Regions from separate parts of the Homo sapiens genome. Here region 1 is linked to region 2. Evidence: fine-mapped expression QTL. A gene starts in region 2. The other region holds a variant in brackets. All regions are shown on one strand. Distances are between the middles of the regions. Region 1 overlaps SPMAP2L (sperm microtubule associated protein 2 like). Region 2 holds the start of SPMAP2L (sperm microtubule associated protein 2 like).

Region 1 (12,827 bases), 72 kb after region 2:
GTGGGGCAGGGTGGTAAGATACTTTGCCTATGGTAGTCAGTGAAGGCCTCTCTAAGGAAGGAATATTTGAGCTGAAACCTGACTGGTAAGAAGGAGTCAACCAAGTGAAGATCTAGAAGAATATTCCAGTAAAGGGAAGAGTACATGCCAAAGTACTAAAGTTGGGATGCACTTGAAATTGGGTGGAGCAAGGTGAGCTAGAGAATTCTGGAGATAGCCGCCCTCACCGAGTGGTCTGCTGTGTTGAGCAATAACAGGTAAGTCATGGCACTCAGCACAGAGCCTGGAACCTTTGATGGCTTCCCTCCCTCTTCATCCTTGACATTCCCCACCATCAATTGCAGTGCCAACTTGGTGCCCTATTCCAATTGGGTTTTCAAAAAATATCTAATGATCATGTTGCCAAAAGAGGTGGGGCCAGTTTCACCCTGTTTCAAGGAAACTGAGGATTTAATATGGAATTCTATTAGGAAAGAAAACCATTCTGGGAATCAGAAACTCTTGGACGAGTGTCTTAAGTTTACTAAAGTGACTTGTGACTGTCAGGCAAATGACTTTATTCTCAGTTTTTTGGTATGTAAAAATGGAAGTAATGGAGATCTTTCCTTAATTGCTAGGATTGTTTGGGTTTATTTTATTTTTTAAGGTCTTTAGAAAAAAGGAATACCACTGCAGAAAATCATAGTCTTAGAACCCGAAACAAATCTGCACCAGTGCAATGCAGAACACTTTCAAGACTACTGAGAGTGGTGTTAGCTGTCCTCCCTAATTCTTTTGTTTGTTTTTTTTGTGATGGTGGTGTTTTTTTTTTAGACAGTGTCTTGCTCTGTCACCCAGGCTGGAGTGCAGCAGCACGATCATGGCTCACTGCAGCCTCAACCTTCTGGGCTTAAGTGATCCTCCCACCTCAGCCACCTGAGCAGCTGGGACTACAGGCATGTGCCACCACCCCCAAGTTTTAAAAATTTTTTTGTAGAGACAGGGGTCTCACTATATTGCCCAGGCTGGTCTGGAACCCCTGAGCTCAAGTGATCCTTGTGCCTCAACCTCCCAAAGAGCTAGGATTATAGGTGTGAGCCATCATGGCTAGCCCCACTCTAATTCTTTTGAGTGAGCATTTAAAAGAGAGTAGTAGATGTCATCCTAGGTATTTTACCAATAAAGCAACATAACAGAAAGGCAATCTGGTAGATGTGGTTTTTAAAGTAAGACCAAAAGGAGTCAGTCAGTATATGTTTATTCAGCACCAACTATGTGCCAGAGCCAATTTTAGCTTTTAGCAAACAAGTAATTCCCCTTGAGCAGCTTATATTCTAATGGGGAGAAATACAGTCAATAAACAAAGTGATAAATGAGCTAATGTGGGTGTTGACATGTGCTATGAAGAAGATTAAGTAAGTCCTGCAGAAGAGGGTAATTAGGCTGACTTGTCTTGCCTGGCCAGGGAAGATCTCCTTGAAGAATGTGATGTATGAGTCTAGAGACTTGAGTGAGGGAGAGGCAGCCAAGCCAAGGCTAAGGGAAGTTTTTTTTTCAAGGAGAACTAGCAAGTGCAAAGGTCCTGAGAGGGAAGGACCTGGTCCAGGGAGTCTGTGTGGCTGGAATCACAGGGATCAAGGAGAGGAGGGGAGGAAGATGAGGTCAGAGGGGTGGGGCAGAAGGCAGATCATGTAGGGCCTTGTAGGCCACAGAAGGAGCCTAAGTGATAGGGTTTGGCTCTGTGTCCCCACTCAAATCTCACCTTGAATTGTAATAATCCCACATGTCAAGGGAAGGACCAGGTGGAAATAATTGACTCATGGGGGTGGTTTCCCCCATGCTGTTCTCCTGATAGTTAGTGAGTTCTCATGAGATCTGATGGTTTTATAAGGGGCTTCCCCCTTCGCTGGGCTCTTACGGTCTCTTGCCCCCGACCATGTAAGATGTGCCTTTGCTCCTCCTTTGCCTTCCGCCATGATGGTGAGGCCTCCCCAGCCACTCCCCAATGGAACTGTGATTCCATTAAACCTCTTTTTCTTAATAAATTACCCCATCTCAGATATTTCTTCATAGCAGTGTGAAAACAGAATACACTAAGTGTGTGTATATATGTATATATACACAATAATATGTAATAATTATTATTATTTTGAAACAGGATCTCACTCTCTCACCCAGGCTGGAGAGCAGTGGTGCTATCACAGCTTATTGTAGCCTCAACCTCCCTGGGCTCAAGTGATCCTCCCACTTCAGCCTCCTGAGCAGCTGTGACCACAGACATGCACCACCATGCCCAGCTAATTTTTTTTGCTCAAAATTATTATTTTTTACTTTATTTTTTAATTTTTTTCACTTTAAGTTCCAGGATACATGTGCGGAATGTGCAGATTTGTTACATAGGTATACATGTGCCATGGTGGTTTGCTGCACCTATCAACCTGTCACCTAGGTTTTAAACCCCACATGCATTAGCTATTTGTCCTAATGCTCTCCCTCCCCTTACACACCCCCTGCCGCTGACAGGCCCTGGTGTGTGTTGTTCCCCTCTCTGTGTCCATGCATTCTCATTGTTCAACTCCTTCTTATGAGTGAGAACATGAAGTGTTTGGTTTTCTGTTCCTGTGTTAGTTTGCTGAGGATGATGGCTTCCAGCTCCATCCATATCCTTGCAAAAGATATGATCTCATTCTTTTTTATGGCTGCATAGTATTCCATGGTGTGTATGTACCACATTTTCTTTATCCAGTCTATCATTGATGAGCATTTGGATTGGTTCCAGGTATTTGCTATTGTGAATAGTGCTGCAGACACTTCTCAAAAGAAGACATTTATGTGGCCAACAAACATATGAAAATAAAACTCAACATCACTGATCATTAGAGAGATGCAAATCAAAACCACAATGAGATACCATCTCACACCATTCAGAAAGGTGATTATTAAAAAGTCAGGAAACAACAGATGCTGGCAAGGCTGTGGAGAAATAGGAATGCTTTTACACTGTTGGTGGGAATGTAAACCAGCTAATTTTTGTTTTTCTTTGCTTTCTTTTTTTTTTTTTTTTTTTTTTTTTTTTGTAGAGATGAGGTTTTGCCATTTTGTCCAGGCTAGTCTTGAACTCCTGGGCTCAAATGATCTGCTCACCTCAGCCTCCCAAAGTGCTGGGACTGATTACAGGCACAAGCCATTGTGCTTGGCTGAGCCTAAGTATTATTTTTAGCAAAATGGGAAACAATAGGATGGGTTTATTTATTTATTTATTTGAGACAGAGTCTCACTCTGTTGCCAGGCTGGAGTGCTGTAGTGTGATCTTGGCTCACTGCAACCTCCGACTCCCTGGTTCAGGCGATTCTTCTGCCTCAGCCTCCTGAGTAGCTGGGATTACAGGCACGGGCCACCAAGCCCAGCTAATTTTTGTATTTTTAGTACAGACGGGGTTTCACCGTGTTAGTCAGGCTGGTCTCAGACTCCTGACTTCATGATCCACCCGCCTTGGCCTCCCAAAGTGATAGGATTACAGGTAGCAACCAACGCATCCAGCCCAGCATGGGTTTAAAGCCTGGTAGCGATATGATCTGATTTGGGCTTTAGAAAGTACTTAGCTCATGAAGCTGTTGTGATGATTAAGTGGGAATGATTTAGGTAAAGCTTAGAACACTGTCTGGCTCACAGAACACACTCATTATATGTTCATTCTCTCCCTCAGTAACTGTCATGGAAGGCTGCATTGTACAGGAGCAAGGATGGAAGCAGAGAGACCAGTTACGAGTCTGTTGCAGTAATCCAGAAAAGAAATGATTGTGACTTAAGTAGGGATATAGCTATAGACATAGAGAAATGTAAAATTTGGGATATATTTTTGTGTCTCTTTGTTTCCACTATAGGTACCTCCTGCTGCCATGATAGCTAAACCTAGCCCCCGAACAATAGCTCTAGCGAAGTCCAAGTCTGTTCATCAAGATTATCTACCTGACCGTGATGCCCATTGGCCAGTATCTTATGCTACTACTCATTCCAAAGCATCACCTAGGATTCAGGAACTAGCTAATCCAAATAAGAGGTATGTCAATTTCAGGCTAAAGTGGGACAGGAAAGGCTGGGGTTCTGGGGAGAGGGAGAAAGTTGACCTAATAAGGCAAATGAAAAGAGTTGTAGAAATATGAAAAGAACTTCCAAAACATCTTACTTAACGAATTACATTTATTGTGATACATCTATGGTCTTCTTACCCTAAATATAAGGCTACTGTTAAAAGGTTAGTGGACTAGGTATTGCAACTTAGATCTAGGATGGGGCAGGTGGATCACACCTGTAATCCTAGTGCTTTGGGAGACCAAGGTGGGAGGATAGCTTGAGGCTAGGAGTTGGAGACCACCCTGGGGAACATAGTGAGACCCTGTCTCTACAAAAAATTCTTTAAAAATATTGGCCAGGCACGGTGGCTCATACTAGTAATCCCAACACTTTGGGAGGCAGAGGTGGGAAGATCGCTTGAGCCCAGGAGTTTGACATCAGCCTAGGCAACAAAGTGAGACCCCCATCTCTTCAAAAAAATACCAAAAATTAGCCAGGTGTGGTGGCATGTGCCTGTAGTTCTAGCAACTTGGGAGGCTGAGGCAGGAAGTCATTGCTTGAGCCCAGGAGTTTGAAGTTACAGTGAGCTATGATCTGCACTCCAGCCCAGGCAGCAGAGTAAGACCTTGGCTCTAAGAAAGAGAAAGGAAAAAGGAAAAAGAAACTTAAGATCTAGGAGACAGTCTGATAAGTATGTGTATGGAATTATTTATCTAACATATATTATTAAGTGAAACAGATTCTAGAACACAGCATGTAATATGTTGCAATTTGTGTAAGAAAAAAAGACATGGGCCATATATTTGTTTGCATATGCCTGTAGTATCTCAGAAGGGTATACAAGAAGCTAGTAACAATGGTTGCCTTTGGGGGCCTAGGGAATTGGGATAGGAGGAAGACTTATTTTTCAATAAATAGGCTTTTGTATTTTTCCAATGTTTTGCATCATGTACGTGTATGGCCTAATTCAAATAGATAAGAATATATAATTAACAAAGAAAAACATTGCCTCTCATTTCTGTTTATTTTTTGGAGGCCTCTTAACTTGCCCGAGCCTCAATTAATTTTGTTACCTTGACGGATAACATCTGATCCCTCTTTTAAAGCATCAATAGCAAAACCTAGGAGAGGCAGAAAAAGTTGTGGAAGTCTTGAGCTCAGGGAAAAGGAAATATGCTAGTCTTATATAATGACATGTTTAAAATGCTGTAATGTGTTTATCCTTTAAAAAAAATAAATTTGCCATCAGATGAAATGAAGCTCATTCTCTGTTCATTAAAGAGAAGAGGCTGGATGCGTTGGCTCACACCTGTAATCCCAGCAGTTTGGGAGGCCAAAGCAGACAGATCACTTGAGCCCAGGAGTTTGAGACCAGACTGGGCAACATGGTGAAACCCCGTCTGTACTAAAAATACAAAAAAGTTTGCTGGGCATAGTGGTGCACGTCTGTAGTCCCAGCTATTTGAGAGGCCGAGGTAGGAGAATCACTTGAGCCTGGGAGGAGGAGGTTGCAGTGAGCAGAGATCGCACCACTGCACTCCAGCCTGGGTGACAGAGTGAAACCCTGTCTCAAAAAAATAAAACAATAAAATAAAAAGTAAAAGAGAAGAATATGATCAAGTGCATTATCAAGGTTTTTATCCTGGTGACAAAATTATTATTTGGTGGTAAGGTGCTGAGAGTGGCCAACTTCAAAAATTTTATTTTCTTAAGTCTACCAGAGAATACTCTGGCTTGTTTTAACATTGACAAATTATGTTATGGTAAATGATACATAGGGGATACAAACTCAGGTCTGTCTGATTCCAAAACTCAAGTTCAAGACTAAGCAACTTCCTGAATTTACTTTCTGGGGAAAGAGAAAAGGTTTTGGAATCTGAGAGACATATAAATCTGGATTTGTCTGTAAATTCATTCATTTAACTTCATTTAACTGAGTCTTGATTTCCTTATCTGTATAGTGGAGGTCATGAAAATAAAATGGGATAATATCATAGTACATAACATACAGTGGATGCTTGAGAAACATTAGCTACCTTCTCTGTTCATCTTATTTCAGGTTGATTTCTTTTTCCCCTATTTCAGGGCTCCTGTGCGTATTGTGTATTATGATCCAGATGTCTTTAAAACCAAGCCAGCTGCTTTGAAAGCACAGTGTTCTCAAAGGATC[T/C]GGGAGTTGTCACAACCTCTTACACGTTAAATACAGAAAGCCACAACAGTCAGACCCTGGTTATGTATCTAGAACACATATTAGATGACTTAGTTCCCTGTTGCGGTACTGTCAGTTTACATTCACCCCTTGCTTCCCCTCCCACAAAATGAGACCTTTAGGGAAAACCACCATGATCATTAAATAGCAGTTGTTGCTGTTAACCTGTCGCTGAATCTTTAGCAGATTTGAGGACTCCAGCATGCAATAAATGAGAAAATGAGAGACTGCCTCATTATCCTTACTGTTTCCTCACAAGCATCTTGGCTGCCTCATTGCTGTAGCTGACCTGAAGAAACACTCTTCCTTATATTTGTGGGTTTTGCTTTTCCTTTCCCAGTGAGTTCCATGTTCCCCAGTAACTGATCCTACCTCAGTCCCTTCTCCAGTAAGTCCTGGGAAATGAAATCATTCTTTGTGTTATTTCAGCATCCCCTTATTACTTAGAAAAAACACTGAAAAAGTGAAGCTCTTTTGGAAAAATTGAAATACTTTTTATAGTCTATAAATACAATTTATAATTGAAATTTAGGGAACAGGTTACCTTAATGATGATGTCACCAATCTCTGTTCCTTTACTCATGCCAGAGTCACTTACCATGAATGAGAGAAAAAGCTGTTTGGTAAGCATTAAAATTCTCTGTAAAATTGCATCTGCCCAGAATTTTATTCTCTCTATAGATCAGTATTTTACAAATTAAACTAACTTTTATGGGGCATATCTAGATTTGCATGAAAATGAACTTACTTGAAAGCCAATTTTACAGATGAATGAGTTCTACCTTTAACGTCTTTGTGTTACAGAGGGGTAATACCACATAGCAGTTTTGAACTTGAGTTTTGGAATCAGATAGAACCTGAAGTTGTCTCTGTCATGGATTATTTACCAGGTATGTGATCTTAAACAAATTTCCTAACTCCCTGTGCTGCAGTTTCTTTATGTAGAAAATGGGTTCCTGCAGCATTCTTGTAAAGATTAGATGATAAAATGTATATAATAAAGTATATATTTGAAACAAAAATTTTTATTTAGAAATTTAGCTGTGGCTAGGCACAGTGGCTCATGCCTGTAATCCTAGCACTTTGGGAGGCCGAGGCAGATGGATCACGAGGTCAGGGGTTCAAGACCAGCCTGACCAACATGGTGAAACCCCGTCTCTACTAAAAATACAAAAATTAGCCTGGTGTGGTGGTACACACCTGTAATCCCAGCTACTCAGGAGGCTGAGGCAGGAGAATCACATGAACCCAGGAGGCAGAGGTTGCCATGAGCCGAGATTGCACCACTGCACTCCAGCCTGGGGTGATACAGCAAGACTCCATCTCAAAAAAAAAAAGAAAAGAAAAGAAAAGAAATTTAGCTGTGTTTCACATGTTTAAAGCAGCACAATTCACAATTGCAAAAATATGGAACCAACCTAAATGCCCATCAACCAACAAGTGGATAAAGAGAGTGTGGTATATGTACACCATGGAATACTACTCAGTCGTAAAACAAAACAAAATAATGGCATTTGCAGCAACTTGGATGGAGTTGGAGGCCATTATTCTAAGTGAAGTAACTCAGGAATGGAAAAACCAAACATTGTATATTCTCACTTATAAGTGGGAGCTAAGCTGTGAGGATGCAAAGGCGTAAGAATGATACAATGGACTTTGGGGACTCAGAGGGAAGGCTGGTAGGGGGGTGAGGAATAAAAGATTACATAATGGGTACAGTGTACACTGCTTGGGTGATGAGTGCACCAAAATCTCAGAAATCACCACTAAATAACTTATCTATGTAACCAAAAACTACCTGTACCCCCAAAGCTATTGAAATTAAAAATAAGAAATTTACCTGTGCTAGCTTTCTAAGGGTACAGTGGCATAATTCATATCAGTGGGGAAAATATGCCTTGATTCTTACATTAAATGAATGTCTGTTGAGTGTCTTTGCTTTGCCAGGCCCTGTGCTTGGCACTGGAGATAACACAGTGAACCAAACAGATATGGGTTCTGCTCTCACGGACTCTTTAGCTTATTGGGAGAGATGATTTCATTAGAATATTCACCAATAAATGTAAAATTACAACACTAGCAAGTACTATGAAATAGTGTTATGAAATAACAGAATAGAGAACTTTGATCCCATGGGAAAGTGAGAGAAGGCTTCTCTAATGAAGGAACAACTGGGTTGGATGCTGATGAAATGCCTAACCTTGTTTTTACTTCAACTCATTACTTTGAATTTTGTCCTGCTTGTCTCTTTAAATCACCTAGCCTTGCTTTTCATGTAAATAAGACTCTCTAGCTAGGAAAGCTGGGCAAACTCCAATTGGCCCCTTAATTTACAAGACACTAGGGCTCCTCACCCAACCCCCTTTCGTGAGGAGTTGGCCTGGGTAAACAGATCCTCAGCATTTCAAAGGAGCCCAATTAACTGATAAGGTACCAACACCAACAACGTATGAAGTTCCCAGGAATTTTCTCCAAGAGATAACAACATAAAACCTTGAGTTCGTGTCCGGCATAAACCCTATATCTAATTATAATAAAAGATTTAGAACCTTGCACCTGGTACCGTTGCTCTTCTTGTAACCATTTGTCTTTTAAGTTGTTTATCACTCTGTAACCATTTTGATTCTTTTGATTCTTGCATGTTTTTACTTCTGTAGAATTATTACATTTGAGTCCCCCTCCCCTTCCTAAACCTAGGTATAAAAGTTAATCAAGCCCTTTCCTCGGGGCCGAGAGAATTTTGAGCATTAGCCGTCTCTTTGGCCGCCGGCTTAATAAAGGACTCTTAATTCGTCTCAAAGTGTGACGTTTTCTTAACTCACCTGGGTACAACACTGAAAACTGAGTAGGACTAACTAACCAAAGAGGATACAGGAAGACATTCCAAGTAGTGGGAACATATGTTAAGTGGACAGTTGTTGATTTTTGGATCACTCTGAATTCATTCTTCCTCCTTCTGATAAGAACTGCGCATTTGCTCTTGGAGAATTACTTTCTCCTCATTGTTTAAAGCTTTATGGGGATTTTTATTCAAGGTTTCCTAGCCGAGGTATGGATATGTAACCCAAGTCAGCCACACCCATTGAACTGTCTTCTGGGACTGTGGATCTTAAGCATAGTGAAGCAAGGGTGATGGAGCTGATATTTCCCATATAGGTGCCCTGATGAGACTTCATTTTTCTCCTACTACCTGTGTCCCTGGAGCTGTTCTGACTCCTACCCTGGTGCTCCGGCTATTCCTCTGATGCCGGAACTGCCTTCCAGTAAATCCCCTGAGGCAGATGGAAGGATGCATCAGGGACTGAAAGATTGCCAGTGTGGCTCAAACAGAAAGAAATAGGAGGTTGTGTGAAGCAAGAGGAGGCTGAAGGATGGGAGCCAGACCAGACCACGTAGGGCACTGGAGGACAGGTTAAGGATTTTAGTCTTCATCCTAAAACCAAAGGGAAGCTATTGAAGTAATTTAAGCATGGGGTGATGTGATCAGAGTTGGCTTTTGAAGTAATAGTTCTGACAAATAAATTGGGAAGGGGGCAGTGGAGGTGGGTAGGCCAAGTTAGGAGGTTATTTAGTACGTCATTTTAAAGGTGAAAATAGTTTGTTGGTACCATGGTGGAGACAGTAAGAAGTGACAGGCTCAAGAGCGATTTGAGAAGGTGGATTTATGGGATTTGATGATGGGTTATATATGGGGAGTGGGAGAGGAAAGAATTCAAGATAACTTCTGGATTTCTAGGTTATGAAACAGGATAGAGAGTGCTCTGGTTTGAATGTTTGTGTCCTTCCAAAATTCATGTTGAAACTGAATCCTCAATGCAATAGTATTCAGAGGTGGGGCTTTCAGGAGGTGATTGGGTCTGAAGGACTCTGCTCTAATAAATTGGATTAGTGCCCTTGTAAAAGGGCTTGAGGGAGTGAGTTCATCCCTTTTCTCTTTTTGCCATGTAAGGATGCAGTAAGAAGGTGCCGTCTTGGAAGCAAAGAACAAGCCCTTACCAGATACCGAATCTATTGGCACCTTGATCTTAGACTTCCCAGCCTCAGCTGTGAGAAATAAATTTCTGTTCTTTATAAATTAGCCAGTGTTTGGTGTTTTGTTATAGTAGCCCAAAAAATTGAGGCAGAAAATTAGTACCAGGAGTGGAGTACTGTGTAACAAATACCTAAAAATGTAAAAACAGCTTTGGAACTGGTAATGGACAGAGACTGGAACAGTTCAGAGGAGCAGGCTAGAAAAAGCCTGTGTTGCCATGAATGGAGCATTAAGGGCGATTTCTGGTGAGAACTCAGAAGAGTTGTAGAGAAACCTTCAATCTTCTTAGAGATTACTTAAGTGGTCATGAACCAGACAGTTGGCAGAAATATGGACAGTAACCTGGGCATGGTGGCTCCCGGCTGTAATCCCAGCACTTTGAGGGACTGAGGTGGGAGGATAGCTTGAGCCCAGGAGTCCAAGACCAGCCTGGGCAACATAGGGACACCCCATTTTTATTTAAAAAAATGTTTTTTAAAAAACTAGCCAAGCATGGTGGTGCTTGCCTGTAGTCCAAGCTACTCAGAGGCTAAGGTAGAATTACTTGAGCCTGGGAAGTTGAGGTTGCAGTGAGCCATGATTGTGCCACTGCATTCTAACCTAAGCAACAGAGTGAGACCCTGTCTCAAGAAAAAAAAAAAAAAAAAAGAAAGAAAGAAAAGAAATATGGACAGTAAAGGCCATTTTAGTGAAGTGTCAGATGGAAATGAGGAACAAGATAGTGGAAACTACAGAAGTAAGTTAATAAGTGACAAAAAGAAAAAAAAGAACCTTGGTTACATTGTATTCATATGATATTTGCAGGAGAAGTCTCTAAGCAAAGTGTTGAAGGAGCTGCTTGGCTTCCCTTGACTGCTTGTAATAAAATGTGAGAAGTGAGAATTGAATTAAAGATGGAATTTATAATTAAAAGAGAGGCAGAACTTAAAGATTTGGAAAAGTCTCAGCCTTGTCAAGTTGTAAAGGATAAGAAGCATGGTTGAGAGAGAACACCAAGAGTGTGACCAAGAGAATGTTTGGTAAGGCGATTAGTATGGCTAGAAGGAAGTCAGATGCTATTAATCAAGACAATGGAAGAATGACCCCTAAGGTATTTTGGAGATCTTCAAGGCTGCCACTCCCATCACAAGCCCAGAGTGCCAGGCCCTTGAGGACAGAATGATTTCAAAGCAGGAGCACAGGGCATCTGTGGGACCTTGGGGCCCACTTCCTAGTATTGCCTCACATTTCTGCTCCACAAATTCTGGTGCAGTGCCCCTCAGCCACCCCAGGTATGGCTTCAGTGGGCCCAGGTACAATATAGTTGGCAGAGAGTCCCCACTAAGACAGTGTCTAATGGAGCCATGAGAATAGGGCCACCCTTGTGACCCCAGGTTGGTAGAGCCACCAACATGCAACATCAACCTGGGAGAGCCACAGTCACATGACTCCAAACCCTGCTGACCATGGGTTGTGCCCAGCAAAGCCAAGGGGGTGAGCCCACCTGGGTGAACCTTAGTGTGTTCAGAAGATGGGACATGGAGTCAAAGAAGATCATTCTCAAGCCTTAATATTTAATGTTTGCCTTGTTGGGTTTTGGACTTACTTGAGACCTGTTACTCTTTTCTTTCCTACCTCTCCCTTTTGGAATGAGAATGTATATCCTATGCTGATATCACTATTGTCTTTTTTTCTTTCTTTCTTTCTTTTTTTTTTTTTTTTTGAGACAGAGTCTTGCTCTGTCACCCGGACTGGAGTGCAGTGGCGTGATCTTGGCTCACTGCAACCTCTGCCTCCCGGGTTCAAGTGTTTCTCTGCCCCCCGAGTAGCTGGGATTACAGGTACCCACCATCACGCCAGACTAATTTTTGTATTTTTAGTAGAGGCAGGGTTTCACCATGTTGGCCAGACTGGTCTCGAACTCCTGACCTTGTGATCCACCTGCCTTGGCCTCCCAAAGTGCTGGGATTACAGGCATGAGTCACCGTGCCCAGCCACTATTGTAATTTGAAAGCACATAACTTGTTCGATTTCACAGGTTCACAGCTGGAGGGGGAGTTTGCTTCAAACTAATCATTCATTTATATCTGATTTAGATGATATTTACGTGAGACTTTGGACTTAAACTTTAAAGTTGATGCTGGATTCAGTTAAGACTTTTGGGGCTATTGGAATGAAAAGAATGTATTTTGTAAGTGAGAAAAACATGAATTTGGGGGAACCGGAGGCAAAATGCTGTAATTTGAATGTTTGCATCCTTCCAAAATTCGTGTTGAAACTTAATTTCCAGTGCAACAGTATTAAGAGGTGGGGCCATTAGGAGATGATTAGGTCATAAGGGCTATGCTCTCATCAGCGGGATTAGTGTCCTTAATAAAGAGCTTGAGAGAGTTCATCCCTTTTTCCGTTTTTAGCCATGTGAAGATGCAGCAAGAAGGTGCCATCTTGGAAGGAGCAAGCAGCCATCAATTGACATTGAATCTTCCAGTGTCTTGATTTTGAACTTCCCAGGCTGTAGAACTGTGAGAAATGAATTTCTATCATTTGTGAATT
Region 2 (12,827 bases):
TTTTGCTTTTATATAGATAAACTTTCTTCACTAGAAAGAGTGATAACTATATTTATTTGCAGACACTCTGTAAATCCAACTTGTAACTATAGTGCCTTGCTTTGGTTTTAAGAAAAATTGTAAAGAGAGTTTGCTCTATAAATCCTTCCTTTTAAAATTTGGAATCTGTGGTGAAATAATACAAATATGGGGTCAGGCGTGGTGGCTCACACCTGTAATCCCAGAACTTTGGGAGGCCGAGGCGGGCGGATCATGAGGTCAGGAGTTCAAAAGCAGCCTGGCCAACATGGTGAAAACCTGTCTCTACTAAAAATACAAAAAATTAGCCAGGGGTGGTGGTAGGCACCTGTAATCCCAGCTACTCGGGAGGCTGAGGCAGGAGAATCGCTTGAACCCAGGAGGCAGAGGTTGCAGTGAGCCAAGACCGCACCACTGTACTCCAGCCTGGGCAACAGAGCAAGACTCCATCTCAAGAAAAATAAACAAAATAAAATAAAATAAAATTTGGAATCTGTGGTGAAATAATACAAATATGGGGTCAGACGTGGTGGCTCACACCTGTAATTCCAACACTTTGGGAGTCTGAGGCAGGAGGATCATTTGAACCTATGAGTTTGAGACCAGCCTGGGAAACATAGTGAGACCCTGTCTCAAAAAAAAAAAAAAAAATCCAAATTTGGTGAAGATAACCCCTCTCAATATTAGCACATAACTGTCTCTAGTTTTAGGTTAAAATAGAACACAATTGAATTTATGCATGCATGTGCAAAATGATGATTGCCCTCTGCGAGATGAGACATTGGAGAGTGAGCCTTTAAAATCATTACCTTTCTCATATCAGCACCACGCCATCATGTTTAATGGTATCTTATCACAGCAGCCACTCAGGTGTCTAATGTTAAACCTTCTTCTTGTCTGGCCTATGGAGGGTGGATCACACAATGATTCGGAATTGTCAGAAATGTTGGATTTTAACCTCTGCCCCAAGGATTACCGCGAATGGACCCCTGGATGAATTCCTTGACTGTCTTGGTCTTGTCCTTGTAAAAAGATCAAGTGAGATGCAGACCACTTCCAGCCCTAAACTCTGATTCTATGTGCTTGTCCCTTCCCTAGGTTTTCTAAGGTGATCAGGGACATAGAGAAGTTTCTGGATGCTTATTTCAAAGATAAGGCCAAAAGCTTTCAGGATGGGGAACAATATCTCTGTTCTTCCCTGTTTGGTCTTTTTAATCTCAGATTCTGATTTTAGATTCTGCATTTTGGCAACAAGTGTTGTGGCTGGAGTTTTTCCTTCAGTGGACAGTTATGGAGTGCCAACATGGCAGTCATTGCTTGACACCAGGGTGAACAAAGCAGGGATTCTGTACTTGAGATGCTCTCAGGCTAACGATGAGGGTTTGTGTCATGGGGGTTTCTAACAGAAATGGCACTAGACAACAAGACAGATTGGCGTATTGTCAGAGAGGCTGCCTGGCTGGTAGCCTGCCCAATGGGCCTAATGGGGTGGCATACGACCTTGGAGACTTTACCACAATCTCGTGTCTGTTGCCAGCCTTCCGGGCTTACAAGCATTCCAGGTTTGAGAAGCTGAGTCATGTTAGAAAGTAGGTTTAGTTAGCACACCAAGAGTGGATCTGCCTTTTCATTCAGTAAACATTTTGGGAGCACCATGTGCCAGAAAATGTGCCAGAACTCTTTCAGCTAAAAATAAATTCAGTTAAAAGGAAATTCAGGCTGGATGCAGTGGATCACGCCTGTAATCCCAGCACTTTGGGAGACCAAGGTAGGTGGATCACTTGAGCCAAGGAGTTTGAGACCAGCCTGGGCAACTTGGTGATACCCCATCTCTTCAAAAAATACACACCAGAAACAAACAAACAACAAACTAGCCAGATGTGATAGTGCATACCTGTAGTCCCAGCTACTTGGGAGGCTAAGATGGGAGGATCACTTGTGCCTGGGGAAGTCAAGGCTGCAGTGAGCAGTGATTGCACCACTGCACTTCAGCTTGGGCAATGGAATGAGACCTTGTTCAAAAAGGCTGGGCACAGTGGCTCAGGCCTGTAATCCCAGCACTTTGGGAGGCAGAAGCAGGAGGACTGCTGGAGGCCAGGAGTTAGAGAGCAACCTAGGCAACATAGAAAGACCCTGTCTCTACAAAAATTTTTTTAACGGAAATTCAACTCAAATTTGTGTGTACCCCCACAAAAAAAGAATTTTTTTTTCTTCATCATCCTGGAAAATCTGGGCATGGGTGGATTCAGGAGTTCAGAAGTTCAAAGATAAGACTGTCTCTCCATGTCCTGGCCCTGCCAACCTCTGCTTGGTTTGATTCTCAGATTCCCTCCTCAGAGCAGCAAGATGACTGCTGTCAACACAAGCCATTCTTATAGCTCATGATCTCAGAGTAAGATGGACCTTCCTTTTCTGAGCAGACATCCATTAAATCTCACGGAGGGATACCAATTGGCTCTTCTGGGGTTGCATATTCATCCTTGAACCAATTACTGTGGCTGGATTGGTCAGACCTGGGTTAGAAGGAAGGATCAGCCCCTTAAACTATACTGAATGAGTTCCCTGCAGAAAGGAGGGGTTCTGCCTTCAGAAGAAGAGGGAAGGGATTCTAGGCAGGAAAACGAAATAATGACAGCTATTCACAGTCATTCACTGTGCTTGGCACAGGGAATATACCAGTAACCAGGACAGAGAATTTCACTGTCTTTAAGGAGCTTACATTCTAGCTGGGGAAATACACAAAAATAAACAAGCAGATGAAATAATTACAAATTATGTTGAAGCAAGGAAATGAAATAGAAAATAATGGTGGGAACATTTTTAAAATTAATATGGGCTGGAAAGACCTCTTTGAGTGGGTAATATTTAAGCTGAGCCCCAGAGGCTAGAAAAGAGCCAGTATGTAAACAGTGGGAAGAAATGGGCTCCACGCAGTGGGAACAGGTGTGAGAAGAGACTGAAATGGGAAAGAGCTTGACACTTTAGAGAAGAGTAGGGAGGCCAGAATGTAGACAGCAAGGGTGGAGTGGCTCAAAGTAGACTAGAGAGGGAAAAAATAACCAGAGTATGGAACACCTTATAATGCAAAGCTTGAGGATTTAAAAAAATGGTTTGGAGTGTTATGATTGGAGGTGATCAAAGGTAAAAGTCAGAAGTTCCACCAGTTCGGAGGCCACTGTAGAATCCAGAGAGATGATGATGGGCCTGGGTGGCCTGCCATGACCTTATCATGATGTCATTATGGTGGGAGTGGGTTGTTATAAAATGAGTCCAGCCCTGGTGCCTCTCTTTCATGTTCAGCCCTCCCACCATGTTATGCTATGCTGCATCAAGAAAGACTCACCAGATGCCACAGCCATGCACTTGGATGCCCCAGCCTCCAGAGCTATGAGAAATAAATTCTTTATAAATTACCCAGTCTCAGGTATTCTATTATAGCAACATAAAATGAACTAAGACAGACTTGGAAAAGAATTCATTCTATGTGATCATTATAATCTTTCCCAATAAGCAGACTCCTTGAGAAGCAAGTCATGTCAGAAAGCTGCCTGTGCCCAGTGCAGTGGCTCATGCCTGTAACCCCAGCACTTTGGGAGGCCAAAGTGGGTGGATCGCTTGAGCTCAGGAGTTTGAGACCATCCTGGGCAACATGGCAAAACCCTGTCTCTACAAAAAAATACCAAAAATTAGCCAGGCGTGGTGGCATGCGCCTGTAGTCCCAGCCACTCAAGAGGCTGAGGTGGGAGAATGGTGTGAGTTCAAGAGGCAGAAGTTGCAGTGAGTCAAGATTGCTCCACTGCACTCCAGCCTGGACGACAGAGCCAGACCCTGTCCCAAATAAAAAAGAAGGAAAGAAAGCTAAACATGAATATTTTGATATACAGTGGCACCACATTCATAGCAAGTGGGCCTAAAAGATAGGCTGTAACAATTGCAGTCTATTGGCTTAGATCCCCTCCTTTCTGCAGTTTTTGAGAAGGCACAGCCTCTATGATGCTCATTCTGTACATTCACAGTGGCCTGAATCCCCCTCTTTCAATTGACATGTTCTTTGGACTTTCGAAGACATTTCATGTAACCAGGGACTACTTTTACTGATTTAAGGGCCATCCTGCCTCTTTAAGGTGGATTTACATAACTCCTCCCTGATTGGTTTAAAGGTTGAGTTAAAACTCTCTGAGAGTAGCTTTATTTCTCCTTCCAAGTTTTGGGGGATATTTCCTGAACTTCCATACAATATTACACACATCTCTATCAAAGTAAGGTTGAAGGAGATTCCGATTCATATACGCACATGCTAGAATGAATCTTCTAGTTCCATTCCAGATAACATTCACAATCCAAAATATTTCTCTTCTAACTTTTCTTAGCATCTATGAGACTAAGTACATACAAGGAATACCCAGTAACGAGCAAAAGGGGTACTTGGGTTTACTAAATATTTTAACAGACAACTTATTCCTCAACACCTCTAGTCCCTTCCCTTGAAAATAAACACATCAGTAAAACTCCACCACTTCTATTCCCCTCTATCACACTGTCACCACCATGAAAATTAGCTGAAAGCACTCCTCAAGGATTGAGAGACGGCCAGGCCACCTATGTTTTTAAAGTCTCTTGGTATAATAAGTGATAAAAAAGAGAGGATGCCAAAAACAGGGTTACAAGAAGTGTGGTATATTTAAAAGATACCACAGTTAACAAATTAATGGACGCACCCACAGAACACAGCACACAGTTGTACTGTTCACAAGATAATTACAGCCCTTTATAAAAAGTAGCTGATAGCATGCTTCAGTAGATAGTGAGCCCTGTAATGAGACACAAGTTGTAGATGAATATATTTTTCTTTTAATCCAGTCAGTGTTTCTTTGTGACTGTGTATAGAACTTCATGTGGAGATAAAGTAAAACATTCAAGTTTGAGACTCTTCTTGAATGTAAGCTTATGTCAAATGTCGCACTGGTGGATCCACCTCCCCCACACCCCCCGCCCCCCGCCCCCGCTCCATTCTGATGGTCGTGCATTTAACTAGAAATTGATGGAAATCAGTGTTAGTAACTGAGGGCCTTAGAATATTATCAGTCTCGGCATCCTCTCCCAGCATGATTAGGGGACAAAAGCCCGTATAGAGATTGTGTCCAGGAACCTCTGGGCACAAGCTCTTTACAGATTGCCTCTGGGGTCTGAGGGGCGCCCTAACTAGATTAGAAACTGACATGTTCTACCCCAGGGCCTCCGCGAACGACAGCAGGCGAGAATCCTTGCTCTGGACACGGGGAACAGGGTCAGCATCTCGTCTCCTATCTCCACCGACCTGTCTCTGGCTTTTCTTAGTCCCCAGATGCGCCCAGAAGGTCCTGGAGAGTGGTGCGTCCCCTTGGCAACCGTACAACGCGCAGGAAGGCGGAGTGAGATGAGGCTGAGTCCGGCCGGGGCGGGGCTGTGTGGGACTAGGGCGGGGCTCGGGGGCTAGACCGGGGCGGGGCTGTGTAGGGCTGGGGCGGGGCTCGGGGCGGGGCTCGGGGCGGGGCTGGGCGCGGGGGGCCCCGGCAGCCCTTATCGTATCGCGCAGAGAGCAAACTGCGCCTGGGCAACCAGTCGGGAGGGTGAGTCCCGCGCGCGACAGAAGCTTCTGGCGCGAATGGAGAACCAAGAGTTTCTAAGTTCATCTGCGCCGTCCGAGGTGACCGATGGGCAGGTCTCAACAGAAATATCCACTTGCTCCGAAGTCTTCCAGAAGCCCATTGTGCTCAGGATTCTCGACACTCACAGAGAGCTTGAGGAGTCCGAGGATCCCGAGAAACACGAGAATCCCGAGGAACCCGAGGAGGTCAGGGAGCAAGACCAGAGAGACGAGTCCGAGGAATGTGATGAGCCTCATGAGTCCTATGAGCCCCACGCTCCCTATGCGCCCCACAAGCCCCGGGACTCCTATGCACCTTACGAACTCCATGGGCCCCATGCAGCCCCCAAACTCCTCAAGGCCCGTGAACCCCGCCAGCTCCGCCACACCCGTGAGCCCCGCAAGTCCCGCGAGGCCAAGGAAACCGAGTTGCTTCCCAGCGCCGCAGTAATGATCTCCCCCTCTCTGATCACCAGAGCCCCGCCACGGCCTCAGCTGTCTTTCCTGGGTGGTAGGTGTTCCCCTTCCCTCGTCCCCTCTCCTGCTTCTCCCTTCCCCTCATTCCCCACGCGCTGAGCACCCACGCCCCATCTAGAACCGGGGGTCCTAAGGTGGAGGTTTGCATGCAAGAGCTTGCCATATTGAAAAGAACTCGTGTCATTTACCTGTTGCTTCGCAGTCATCAGCCCTTGCGTTTCAAGGGACTCAGATGGGAAACTGACACCCTGATAATGAGAGAAGCTGAATCTCTTGTCTTCCACTGCTATCTAATGAGCTATTGTTACCTCCTTTTGAAGCCCTTCTTCATTCGCCTCTACAGTTAGTCATTGCATCCCTCTGGGTTGCACTTTGAATGTTACCCTTATTAGAGCACTTAAGATCTTGTATTTCACCATTCATCTTTCTCTTTAACTAAAGAGAGTGATCCTTGAAGGGAGGATATTTTCGTCAGTGTTTGGCATATGGTCACATGTGGAAACAAAGCATTCATTGAGCAAGTATTCAAAGAGTATGCATCTACAAAGTGCTCACGATATGCTCAGTCCTCACCACCTTCACAAGGTAACAGAGCAGATGGGACTTGGTTATAAACATCCTTGCTCTGACCCCACTCGCTCATTTATGACCCCTCACTAATGACCCAACCCAAAGCAATTATTTGTCCTCATTGGACCGCCAATCTTTTGGGAAACCAATTTTTATCTTATGTTCTCACTGACTGCTCCTTATCCAGCCTCGATTCCATGGTCTGCCATTGCAGTTGCTCCCTTATGTCTTCCACCATTCCATTGGCTCTCTGGTTATCCATCATACTTCTGACAAAACCTCAACCCTGATTAAACCCAGCCGTCCATCTACTCGCTTCCTACACCTCAGCAGTTGACTCTTGCTGTGCAAAATTGCACAGTCATACTGTCTGGTTTATTTCAATTTCATTTCAACTGGTCACTTGGCACTGCCTGGCAAGCTCACTTTATTCCCTTAGTAAGTTGGTTTTCCCAGTCTCTGAAGATGACTAACTGCCTTACTCTCCTCTAAACTTCACACCTTTGACCCCCCCACCCAGCTGAAGACTTTGCCCCATTCTTTATCGAGAAAATAGAAGTGATCAATCATGAAATCCCTTATTTTCTTACAATGGATCTATTGCTTTACCCGCATCTGTACCCATGAATTCTGCCTTTTCTCATATTTCAGGGAAGAATTGTGCCTTTTTTTTTAATGAAAAGCAAAATCCTTCACTTATGCTTTAGATACCACTCTCATTTCCTGAAGAACTTTCTTCCTGCAGTTATCCTCTCTCTTCTACAGCATCAATTTCTCCCTAATTAATCAGTACCATCATACACATATTCTAGAATCTTCCATCTTGAAATAACTCTTGACCCCATGTCATTTTCAGACTCTCCCCTTCCACCAGCATCACCCCCATTTCTCTGTTGTTCTTCATTGCAGAACTTGTCAAAAGAGTTGTCTATACTCACTGACTCAATTTCTTCACCTCTCATTCTCAACACATTTGGTTAGGCTTCTTTCCTCTACTCTCCCAAAACTGCTCTAGTTTACTGCTTTTCTCTCTGCCGCCACTCCTATCATCATGCATGGAGATTTCATATCCACTTGGATGATCCATTTGGCTTCTCAGTTCTCTGATCTCCTCACTTGGAAAGATCTTGTCCTTCACCCCATCGTAGGCACCCACTATCAAAGCCATTGTTAACTGCTCTACCATTTCCAGACTATTTCAAGCACTCTAATCTCTAACCATGTCTTAGCTTTCCAGCTCACTCCTCCATGAACCCCCCTATCAAATTTTCAGCTTAAGGGACTTCAAATCCATTGATCCTATGAACTTTTCATTATATATCACTATCTTATGTCCTGCTGTCTCTCCTCACCTTATATTCCATGGACCAACAATGGAATTACTCCCTTGATTCTCTCTCCCTCTGTCATTCTTGCCTTGTTAAATCGAACCCTTGCCTGCACTTGGAATAACAGATAATGGCAAGAGAAAGGCAAACAACTATGCCAACTATGATAACTGACCTTTAAATCCATGCCCCTGAACTTCAAGTGGGCTCTCAGTGCTGCTTGCCAGTCATACTGTATTTCCACAGTCAATTTATTTTCCAGCTGTCCCAGAAATTATGGTGAGTGCTCTCATTCCTCAACCTTATGCATCCTTTCCTCCTCGCTCTTAGCTGATGATTTCACTTTTTTCTTCACTGAGAATAGAAGAAATTCTGAAAGATCTACATATCTTTCCACCATGAAATCTACCAAAATACCAGCATCTATACATATGTACTCTACATTTTTTCCTGTTAATAATGGATGAAATGTCCTTGCTCTTATTAAAGGCCTTTCCCTCAATCTATATGTTGGATTTCAATCCCATCTAACTTCTTTAAGCTCTTTGCTCCTAAAATTAGCCTCTCTCTCCTGCATCATTGTATTCCTCCTCTGCTGGATCATTCCCATCAGCATACAAACATGTGCAATGGACCGGATGCGGTGCCTCAAATCTGTAATCCCAGCACTTTGAGAGGCCGAGGTGGAAGGATCACTTGAGGCTGGAATTCAAAATCAGCCTGAGCAACATAGTGAGACCTCCTTTCTACAAAAAAAAAAAAAAAATTATTAACCACGCATGGTGGCACATACCTGTAGCCCCAGTTACTGGTAGACTGAGGCAGGAGCATCACCTCAGACTCAGCAGTTTGAGGCAACAGTGAGGTATGATCATGCCACTGTACTCCAGCCTGGGCAGCAGAACAAGACTCTGTCTCAAGAACAAAAACAAAAACTAAAACCAACTAACCAAACAACAACAACGACAACAGCAAAATGCACAATAACTCTTATCTTTAAGAAACCCCAAACCTTCCTTGAACCCCATGTGCCCGTCCAGGTACCATGATTTCTTTGCTCTGCTTTAGAGGAAAAATTTCTCAATTGAATTGCCTGCAAGTCATCATATCCATGTCCTCTTTCCCCCTTTTTCCCCCTTCTCTAGAGAACCACTTACATTTTCATCCCCTCCACTTAGCTGCAGTGGCTTTTGTTGAGGTCACAATGATCGCTGCCTTGTGAAATTCAATGGCTAATTCTTCATCTTCATCTTACTCATTTGACACATTAACCTCTTATTTTCTTAGAAGTCTTCTTTACTTGACTTCTGGGATGCCTCTACCTCTGTTGTCCTACCTCACTGATTGTTCTTTAGTCAGTTTCCTTTGCTGAATCCTCCTCTTCCCAGCCTTTAGGTTGAAGTGACCAATGGCTTAGTCCTCTCAGATTCATTCTTCTAGAACTTTCCTTATTCCCTGGGTGAGGTCATCAGTTCCATGGCCTTAACTATATTCTGGTAACTTCCCAAATTATCTCTAGCCTCAGTTTTTCCCCTAAACTCAAGTTTTATAACCAGTCATTGATTTATCGTCCCCGCTTGAATATCAATTTGGCATGTAAAACATAAGGTGGGCTGGGTGCAGTGGCTTACGCCTGTAATCCCAGCACTTTGGGAGGCTCAGGTGGGTGAATTACCTGAGGTCAGGGGTTCGAGACCAGCCTCGCCAACATGGTGAAACCCCGTCTCTGCTAAAAATACAAAAAAAATAGCTAGGCGTGGTGGCGCATGCCTGTAATCCCAGCTACTCGGGAGGCTAAGGCAGGAGAATCGCTTGAACCTGGGAGGTGGAAGTTGCAGTGAGCCAAGATTGCACCATTGCAATCCAGCCTGCACAACAAGAGTGAAACTCCATCTCAACAACAACAACAAACAACAACAACAACAAAAAAACCATAATGTGCCCACCAATGAAGTCTTCCTGCAGCACCCATATGTGCTCTTCCCTCATTGTTTCCCATTTCAGCAAATGGCACCACCATTTATTTATCCAGGTGCCTAAAAACCTTAGCATCATTCTTGACGCCTGTTTTTCTCTTACACTCAGACTTTAAGCCATTAGCAAATTGTAACTTTGAGCTATATCCTGACTATGGCCATTTCTTAACATTTAAAATGTCATCATCTTTGTAAGCCACTATCATCTCTTGCCTGGTCTAAGGGAGGAGACCACCACGCATATTGTCTTATGCCCAATTTCTGCCTCCAAAGAAAGAAGTAAAAACTAAAAGGCAGAAATGAAATCCACAGGCAGACAGCCCAGCGCCACACCCTGGGCCTGGTCGTTAAAGATCGACCCCTGACCTAATTGGTTATGTTATCTATAGATTACATACATTGTATGGAAAAGCACTGTGAAAATCCCTGTCCTGTTCTGTTCTGTTCTAATTACTGGTGCATGCAGCCCCCAGTGACGTACCCCCTGCTTGCTCAATCGATCATGACCCTCTCATGCAGACCCCCTTAGAGTTGTAAGCCCTTAAGAGGGACAGGAATTGCTCACTCGGGGAGCTCAGTTTTTGAGACATGAGTCTTGCTGATGCTCCCAGCCGAATAAAGCCCTTCCTTCTTTAACTCGGTGTCTGAGGGGTTTTGTCTGTGCCTCGTCCTGCTACAGGTCCACTGCAGTAGCCTCCAGCTGGGTTCTTGTCTTGCACCATCCCCGGTTCATTATACCTACACTGGTCACAGAAGTCCCTTAGAACATAAATTATATGCAGTTCTCTTGCTCTCAACCCTCCAGAATGGGTTCTCACCTCAGGCAGGGTTCTCACCTCTAAGGCAGGGATCCCCAACCTTTTTGGCACCAGGGACGGGTTTCGTGGAAGACAGTTTTTTCAAGGGGTGGGGGGAACTGTTCCACTTCAGATCAATCTATCAATCATTAGTTAGATTCTCATAAGGACCCAGCAAGCTAGATCCCTCACATGCGCACGCGCAGTTCACGATAGGGTTTGTTTCTGTGAGAATGTAATGCCACCACTGATCTGACAGGAGGCGGAGTTGAGGCTGTAATGCCTGCTCCCCTGCCACTCACCTCCTGCTGTGTAGCCTGGCTCCTAACAGGCCACAGACAAAACCAGTCCACAGCCCGGGGGTTGGGAACCCCTGCTCTAAAGTCCTTAGCAGGCCTACAAGGCCCCACTTGATCTGAGCCTGTCACTAACCTCACCTTGAACTTGACCTGATATGTCCATGACATCATGTCCTACTACTCCCCTGTCGGTTTTTGCTCTGCAGGCACATGGGCATCCTTGCTCTGAGCTCAGGATCATTTCACTTGCTTTCTCCTCTGCCAGGGCACTCTTGTTTCAAATAACTTGTCATCTCCTTTTCATGGGGTACCAAAAACAGCATTATTGGCCTGCTCATTTTCTTTGAGACACTTATGGGGCTGCATGATATATCTATTTGTTTACTCTTTTACGTTAAGCTCTTATGGAGGCAGGACCTTTGTCTTTCATCCTTAGTGCCTCAAGCTTGCCTGGAACAAGTCAGGAATTAATTGTTGTTGAATGAAAGATCTCTTCATTTGACCGCTGTGTTACCAAATCCAATGGTTTCTTCTCTATCGTTAGCATTGTCAAAAAGATTCAAAGAGTTAATACCCATAAAGGTCTTAGAACAGATGTGGTACATTGTAAGTGCTCAGTAGATGTTAGCTAGTAGTAGTAGTAGTGTTGTAGTGTTATTATTATTATTACTATTTTGAGATGGAGGCTTGCTGTGTTTCCCAGGCTGGAGTGCAGTGGCATGATCTTGGCTCACTGCAAAGTCCGCCTCCTGGGTTCAAGCGATTCTCCTGTCTCAGCCTCCAGAGTAGCTGGGATTACAAGTATGCACCACCATGCCTGGCTAATTTTTGTATTTTTAGTAGAGACAGGGTTTCACCATGTTGGCCAGGCTGGTCTTGAACTCCTGACCTTAGGTGATCCGCTCACCTCAGCCTCACAAAGTGCTGGGATTACAGGCATGAGCCACCACGCCCGGCCAATGTATTAGTATTATTATCTCATTAAACCTCTAGGCAGCATCTAACACAACTGGCTACTCCCTTCTCGTGGCCTCTGTGACACCATAGTCTCCTAGTTTAGCATCCACCTGACTGTTTCTCCTTCTCAGGCTCCTTTGCTGAACCCTCTCTGAATTCTTGAATTCTTGCGGGCTCTGTCCTGACTCCTTTAAAAAATATTTACACTTTTACCCCTAGGTGGTCATAACCACACTCACTCAAGAGTTTAGCATTTCTATGCTGCTGCCTTCTAAATTTTTATATTCTCTCTCTTCTCTGAGTCTGACACTTACATATTCAACTGCCTCCTGGACATCTCCATTTGCATGTATCATATGTTTCTCAAATTGACTATACTTTTTCAAACAGAAGTCTTGATTTCCCTTCCAGCCTTGTTCTTCCTTCAGTCTCCCCCATCTAAGAAAATATCTTGAAGTTACTCAAGCTAAAGAAAATCTATTCTTCTTGCCTCACCTTCAAGTACAATGCACCCAATGAAAGTTCTATCAGTTTTATCTCAAGAATATTTCCTGAATTTATTAATTTCTGCTGCTAACACACTCACTCCAGTTGTCCAGTTGTGGTCACTTCTCACCTGGATTTCTTTTCTTTTCTTTTTTTTTTTTGAGACGAGTCTCGCTCTGTCGCCCAGGCTGGAGTGCAGTGGCGCGCGATCTCGGCTCACTACAAGCTCCACCTCCCGGGTTCACGCCATTCTCCTGCTTCAGCCTCCCGAGTAGCTGGGACTACAGGTGCCC

Evidence for each region. PIP is the estimated chance that this variant, and not a neighbour inherited with it, causes the effect. A credible set is the group of variants that fine-mapping cannot tell apart.
Region 1: its variant is the best candidate, but not a certain one, in a credible set for the expression of SPMAP2L in testis (GTEx, PIP 0.52).

The regions. Positions count from the first base shown.
Region 1 is chr4:56,597,071-56,609,897 of GRCh38, forward strand. It overlaps SPMAP2L (sperm microtubule associated protein 2 like), which reads left to right. Exons shown (of 9, transcript NM_001256475.2): 8 at 3,864-4,039; 9 at 6,139-6,437. The coding sequence ends at 6,253. Among named protein-coding and RNA genes, the nearest start is that of SPMAP2L, 73 kb to the left of the region's middle. RefSeq lists an enhancer at 9,150-9,651. The variant T/C (reference allele first, on the strand shown) is at 6,224.
Region 2 is chr4:56,525,015-56,537,841 of GRCh38, forward strand. It overlaps SPMAP2L (sperm microtubule associated protein 2 like), which reads left to right and starts at 5,592. Exons shown (of 9, transcript NM_001256475.2): 1 at 5,592-6,155. The coding sequence starts at 5,663. It overlaps LOC105377665 (a long non-coding RNA gene), which reads right to left and starts at 5,472. Exons shown (of 4, transcript XR_941077.1): 1 at 5,336-5,472; 2 at 3,362-3,403; 3 at 828-920. RefSeq lists an enhancer at 6,066-6,599.